2 linked regions of the Homo sapiens genome follow. The protein of the gene in region 1 interacts with the protein of each later gene in a biochemical or structural test. Each region holds a gene or a part of one and is shown on either strand. Other genes may lie near its edges.

What was found.
Region 2: of the proteins of WDR62 (region 1) and MAPK8, one has a biochemical effect on the other in vitro, tested with the Homo sapiens proteins (one study listed by BioGRID).

What each region holds. Positions count from the first base shown.
Region 1 is NC_000019.10:36,099,145-36,102,752, reverse strand, and holds part of WDR62 (WD repeat-containing protein 62), read right to left. Parts: intron 3,355-3,608; coding exon 3,136-3,354; intron 2,006-3,135; coding exon 1,878-2,005; intron 1,540-1,877; coding exon 1,436-1,539; intron 1,090-1,435; coding exon 979-1,089; intron 740-978; coding exon 602-739; intron 17-601; coding exon 1-16. UniProt on the Homo sapiens protein: Required for cerebral cortical development. Plays a role in neuronal proliferation and migration.
Region 2 is NC_000010.11:48,400,677-48,404,279, forward strand, and holds part of MAPK8 (mitogen-activated protein kinase 8), read left to right. Parts: intron 1-935; 5' UTR 936-984; coding exon 985-1,106; intron 1,107-3,603. UniProt on the Homo sapiens protein: Serine/threonine-protein kinase involved in various processes such as cell proliferation, differentiation, migration, transformation and programmed cell death.

The DNA of each region.
Region 1 (3,608 bases):
GCTGCGGGGAAGAGCTCTAGGGGAAGATCCCGAGGGGACCCTCATAACCCTTCCCGCCGAGCAGCCCTGGCCCTAGGCCAGCCCACAGCCCAGCGGGGCACTCCCCAGAAACCCTTATGTACAGACACAGGGTACGAGCAGGGGCAGTGGGTGAGGAGGCATCGTGAGGCTCAGGTCAAGAGTGAAGCAGTGGGCCGGGCACGGTGGCTCACGCCTGTAATCCCAGCACTTTGGGAGGCCAAGGCGGGCAGATCATCTGAGGCAGGAGTTTGAGACCAGTCTGGCCAACATGGTGAAACCTCATCTCTACTAAAAATACAAAAAATTAGCAGGGCGTGGTTGTGGATGCCTATAATCCCAGCTACTCAGGAGGCTGAGGCAGGAGAATTGCTTGAACCAGGGAGTCGGAGGTTGCAGTGAGCCAAGATTGGGCCACCGCACTCCAGCCTGGCAACAGAGCGAGACTCCGTCTCAAAAAAAACGAAGCAGTTGCTCTCCACTCACCCTCCTGGCCCTGCTGGGGAGCCAACTCCAGGGACGCCAATGCTGTGCCCAGGCTGCACAGACGGCCTCGGCAGGTGTGGGTGAGGCAGGGCCCTACCTCTGCAGGGGGACTCAGTCAGTGTCTCAAAGTGGTGGCGGAGGAACTTCTCCTGCTCCGGAGTCTGGGGTAGGGAGCTGCTGGGGACGCTGGGTCCCTCGGGCAGGGACAGCTCATCTTCTGTGGGACCTGCGCATCCTGACAGGGAAGGAGGGGAGGGACAAGAGGAGCCAACACCATGAGTCACAGCAGACGCCACCTGAAATGGAGAAAGCGGGCCCCACCCATCCCTGCCCTGTTGCCCGCAGGCTGAGAAGCAGGGATCCCCGTCTTCCAGGCTCAGTGGGCTCCAAGTGCAGGGCCTGTGCTTAGACATTGTGACTGGCCCTAAGCCAGGCCCGAGCAGCGAGTCCCCTGCGTGTCTGGCCCCTGCTTACCTGGGAAATGGGGCAGCGACGTGGCAAACCGAGGGGCAGGGTCAGGAGGCGGAGCTGGGGAGTGGATGGCTGCGAAGCTGCACTCCAGGTCGGCCTCTGACTCCCCCGAGTCTGAAGGACAGAGTCGGGGTCAGGAGCCCACAGCCTGACCATTCTGGTGAGCCAGGGCCAGGGCTACCCTTCCCTGGGCTCAGTTTCCCCATCTGGAGGAGGGATGGTAAGAGCAGCTGCCCCCCATTTTATGAATAAGGGAAGTTCCACATCAAGGAGGTGGCAGAGCTGGGCTCTCAGCTGTAGGCAGCTGGGCCCAGAATCCTCAGGCAGCAGCAGGGACCACATGTGTCTTCCTCGACAGACTCTGAGCTTCAGTACTGGGTCAAAGTCACCATCGGTGCCCAGAAAGGGGCTTGGCTGAACGCACAGACTGTCACAGGGTCCCTGCCTGCCCTGCACTCACCCTCAGGCGGGCTCTGGTCCTTTGGGCTGTCGGAGGACACCCTGAGGTAGGAGTCGCCCTGCTGGTCTCCAGGCCCGGCCTCCACCTCCTTCCTGCAATACTGGCTGCAGTGCCAGTGGGGGCAGAGAGGGAACAAGGACTTCAGCTGGAGACTCAACAGCTAGCCCCACCCGGAGCCCCTAGGCACCTGTACCCGCTGCTCCTGCAGGAGCACTGCGACAGCCTCCCCGCCTCCTCCAAATGCCCCCTCCTTCCCCCAGGTCAGGCCCTCCTGTACCCCACCTGGAACCAGGGAACTAAGGCTGGGCTCCTGCCCCATCCAGGCCTCAACTGTCCCCACTCCCACAAGCCCACTGGGAAGGCAGAGAGCACTTCTTCCAGGATGCAGCTATCAGCTGGGGGTTCCTCCAACTAAGGCTCCCTTGGTGGAAAGGACACCCACCTGTCTGTCCCTGTGACTGTCACTTCTGCCTCCAGAGAGTAGAGGATGAGCTCACTGGCCTCAGATGATTCCTTCTGCTGGGGCAGGAAGGAGGGGTGCCCGCGGCCAGCTTCCTGGGGACTCTCTGACTATGGGGAAGACAGCACAGCCATTCTGAGGCAGGCATGGCTGGGGCCACCAACAGTGCGCCAGGAACCATGCCAGCAGCCCCACTGCTGGAGGCTGTGAACCAGGGCCTGTGCCATGCCCTCCACTCGCAACCAGCTTGTCCTGGTCTGCCCCTGCATTATCAGTCCCTTTACAGATGAGGAAGAGGTGTGGCACCAAAAATAGGAGGCCCAACCCTCTACGTGTCTATTTATATCAAGTTCAAGAATAGGAAACCCAGTCCTTGGTGAGAGGTCAGAACACTGGTTATCCTGGTGCGGGGACCTGACTGGGAAGGGCAGAAGGGGGTTTCTATGAGGTAGAAAACACTCCAGATTTTGCCCAGGGTAGTGGACACACGTGAATTACACAGATAGTTCATCAAGCTGTATACCTAAAATCTGTGCATGTTACTGGATGTATATTATACCACAATGAAGATGACAAATTATAGGATAGGATAAAAATGAATTTTGTTTGGAAAATAGTAGAGAAAGAGCTAAAGTTGCACGGGCACCTCTAAGAGCCCAGGCCCTATACTTAAGCATGGATTCCTGTAAAAGCCCTCTGGGGCAGAAGAGATTGTTATTACCATTTAAAAACAAAACAAACAAAAAAATTTAAAAAATATTTTTGTAGAGGTGGGATCTTGCTACGTTGCCTAGGCTGGCCTTGAACTCCTCAAGTGATCGTTAAGTAATCCTCCTGCCTTGGCCTCCCCAAATGCTGGGATTACAGGTGTTAGCCACTGCCCCTGACCCCATTATGACTACTTTTTAGAAGACTGAAGCCCAAAGAGGTAAGCCTCTTACTCCAGGTCACACAACAGGAATGGGTAGGGTCAGGGCTCGATCTACCCAAATGTCCCCCACTTGGGTACAAGCCTGCTCTAGCATCCAAGCTCTTAACCCCCAAGTGACCCACTTTCCAAAGACTCCCTGTCTGCCTTGGGAAGTCTTGCTGTGCAACAGACCTGGGGCTCACCCTCCTGCCCTTCACCATCTCATGTAATCCTCCCTGCCCCCATGGAGTGGGAGTCAGCCTAAGGCGCCAGGCCCTGGGGCCGTCACGGTGCCGGGGCTATGGGCCAGGCTGCGGTGGAAGTGTGTACCTCACTCAGCAGGCTGGCCAGGCTCTGTGGCTCCAGTGAATCCAGAATGGAGTTCTCCAGACTCTCGGGCTTCATGGGGGTAAAGTAGCAATCCAGGTCCTGGGCATCCAGGATGGTCTTGAGGGGCTCTTGGCCGGCCCGCTCTGCCCAGCGGCCGTGGGGCTGGTAGCTGCGCTTGGCGTGGAAGGCCAAGCCATCTGCCACATCATCGTCCCCTAGCTTGAAGGATATCGGACAGTCAGGCAACTGGCTGAGTGCTCACTCACTGCAGGGAGCGACACGGACATTTCACACAGCCCATCTGGACTCTTGGCTTTCAATACCATTCAGAAACAACTTCCAGGTACATATCTCCAGCGTGAACCTTTCTCTGTTTTTTTTTTTTTTTTTTTTTTTGAGACGAAGTCTTGCTCTGTCTCCCAGGCTGGAGTGCAGTGGCGTGACCTTGGCTCACTGCAACCTCCACCTCTCAG
Region 2 (3,603 bases), on another chromosome or scaffold:
TTAGCATTATCTTAAAACCACAAAAAACAATAACTTTAGACCTAATTGGTTTCATGACTTATTGAGGAGGCGAGGAATAGGTTAAAGCTGCTTTGCATACATTTTGGAATAGTCTCTTTTGTCTAGTAAGGATGGATAAGTTTGTTAATAACCAGTATTCACATGGGTAGAAAAAAAGTGTCTTGATTTTTAATCCTACAAGTAGTAAAGGAATGGTAGTCAGAAGTTGAATCGTACTTTTAATGCCTCAGGCAGGATAGAATAGTATTGTTTTGTTTTGTATCCCAATATGCCTAACTACTTCTCTCTCTCTCCTTTCTGTTTTGCTTCTCATCCTTTCACCCATTACAGTCTCAGTATGTGTGTTACACCAGGAGGTTGCCTTGGCAGGTCAGAGGATCTGTCACAGTGAAGGCACTGTGGTACCCTTTGTTTTTTAGGCAAGGATGACACATGCTAGTCAACTTATTTCCATTTGTTGTTCCCTCCACTTGGCACTAAATGAGACTTAACCATTTTTGAATCAAAGTTTATAAATTTCTTACAAAAATTAAGGTTTTTATTCTCTATAATAAGCACATGAGAAAGACTGGTTTTAAATTTTAAACTGTGGAGTGACGTAAAAACATGTTTAATTTTAATTATTTGCTTTCTTTTGTTCGTCTTGTAAGTTATTAATGTATTAATACTGGTAACTTCTAGATTGGAGGAATGATTTATCCTAATGTTTCTTTTTTAAAAAAAACTATCAGTCATTCATATGGCATATGCTAATCAAGGCTCTGCGGTATTTTTTTTCTTATGTTTTTTAATGAAGCAGCTCTTTTCATGATCTAGCAGTCTGTGTTACTATCAGTACGTAAACAGTAAGGACTCAAATTTTAAGATTAAAACAAGTTCATTTTGTTAACATCATGTTTTGTTGCATCTTGCAGCTTCTTGGTGAATTTTTGGATGAAGCCATTAAATTAATTGCTTGCCATCATGAGCAGAAGCAAGCGTGACAACAATTTTTATAGTGTAGAGATTGGAGATTCTACATTCACAGTCCTGAAACGATATCAGAATTTAAAACCTATAGGCTCAGGAGCTCAAGGAATAGTATGGTAAGTGTTTACTTCCAAAAATTAGGCAAAGAATCATTAACTGCTACCTTTTCTCCTCTCGTAATTTAGATACCTTGGCAAATATTTAACTTGCTTTGAAAAATTAAATTAAAACTAAAAATTAAACGAAAACTATTCCACAGTAAATTGTTTGCTTCAGGATCAATGGTCTTTTCTTTATTATTATTATTAAAGGTTGAGTATCCCTTATCTGAAATGCTTAGGACCAGAAGTGTCAGATTTTGGAATATTTGCATTGGTTGAGCATTCCAAATTCAAATCAGAAATACTTCAGTGAACATTTCCTTTGAGCATCATGTCAGTGCCCCCAAAATTTAGATTCTCGAGCATTTTAGATTTCATATTTTCAGATTTGGGATAATAACCTGTATTATTCATAAGATACAACTCTATAAACTAGCACTGCCATCTTTAAGTATAAACTATGATTAAATACTTGGGCATAGCCATTGAAGACAAATATCTCTATCAGCAAAGAATAAGTGGCATGCTTGTTAATTTCATGTATACATGTATTCCCATAGATAATTGTTTAATAAGAAGCTTCACTTAGTCATCACTTTCACACTATAATGAAGCGTGGAATTTCAGAAATCTTATTCTATACTGGGGAATGAAGTCAGCTAATATCTCACTGTGTGTGTTTCAAAATTCATCCATATGTTTAAAATTGATTTATTAGCTAATTTCTACAAAAGCCTCAGGCTATATCAGCATAATTCTTTATAAACTGAAATGCAGATCACTCTTTGGGATAGTTCTGATACTGATTGCAGATCACTAAATTAGCATAATAATAAACTAGTGTTTTGGGGAATTATAAGCCTCACTCAAGAATAATTATATTTTTATTACCTCTTCTTGAAACAAATTTCAGAATCTATTCTAAACAAAATGTAAACTGTTAAGTATTTATAATCCAGTATTTCTCCTAGGTTCTAAAAAAACTGTTTTACATGTGCACAGGGAGTCATGCATAGGATTGGTGTTTGCAGCACCATTTATAACAGCAAAAATTGGAAATAGCATCAAATCTATCAACAGAAGAATAAAAAATTGTGATACAGTCATGCTGTGAAATACTATATAACATTTTAAACGAACTGGAGCCATATGTGTCAACAAGGATAACCTCAGAAATGTAGTGCTGGGCTTCAAAGCAAGATGTAGAATATATATATACATCATTATACCATTTACATGTAGCTTAAAATATGCAAAGCAGTACCATATATTTATGGATTATATATATGTACAAAAGATTAAAACATGCATAAATACCAAACTTAGGATGTTGTTTATCTCTGAGAAAATAGAGAAAAGAAAGGAGGTTTGACCTATAATATTATATTTCTTTCTAAAAAATTCAGAGCAAGCCGGGCGCGGTGGCTCACGCCTATAATCCCCGCACTTTGGGAGGCCGAGGTGGGTGGATCATGAGGTCAGGAGTTCAAGACCAGCCTGGCCAACATGGTGAAACCCTGTCTGTACTCAAAATACAAAAATTAGCTGGGCATGGTGGCACATGCCTGTAATCCCAGCTACTTGGGAGGCGGAGGCAGGAGAATAGCTTGAACCCGGGAGGTGGAGGTTGTGGTGAGCTGAGATGGTGTCACTGCACTCCAGCCTGGGTGATAGAGTGAGACTCCGTCTAAAAAAAAAAAAAAAATCAGAGCAATTATGGTAACGTATTAAGATTTAATAAATTTGCATAATAGAATGGCATTTATTATCTTTCCTGCATTCTTGAAGTAATTTACAATATCAAAAATTATAGAAGTTGGAGTCATTTTGTAAGCCGTTTTGACTGGCCTGTTCTCATTGTAACCAACCACATTTAACCAACCATAAATTAAATTTAAAGAAAATCATATTATATAGTCAGTATTAGGATTCTGAAAGCCAGCTCTCTGTTCAGATTTTGTTTTTTGTTTTTTGTTTTTTTGTTTTTTTGTTTTTTTTTGAGACAGAGTCTCACTCTGTCGCCCAGGCTAGAGTGCAGTGGCGTGATCTTGGCTCACTGCAAGCTCCGCCTCCCGGGTTCACGCCATTCTCCCGCCTCAGCCTCCGGAGTAGCTGGGGCTACAGGTGCCTGCCACCACGCCCGGCTAATTTGTGTGTGTGTGTGTGTGTGTGTGTGTGTGTGTGTGTGTGTATTTTTAGTAGAGACAGGGTTTCACCATGTTAGCCGGGATGGTCTCGATCTCCTGATCTCGTGATCTACCCGCCTCGGCCTCCCAAAGTGCTGGGATTACAGGCGTGAGCCACTGCGCCTGGCCCTTCTGTATTTATTTTATTGTGTCCAAAAGGATAGAAGTAATGTGTTTACATAGAATTATTCAGCAAATCTTTTGAGTAGAATTTATATGCTTTTTTTTTTTTTGAGGGAGTCTACCAGGCTGGAGTGCGGTGGTGCGATCTTGGCTCACTGCAACTTCCGCCTCCCAGGTTCAAGTGATTCCCTTGCCTTAGCCTC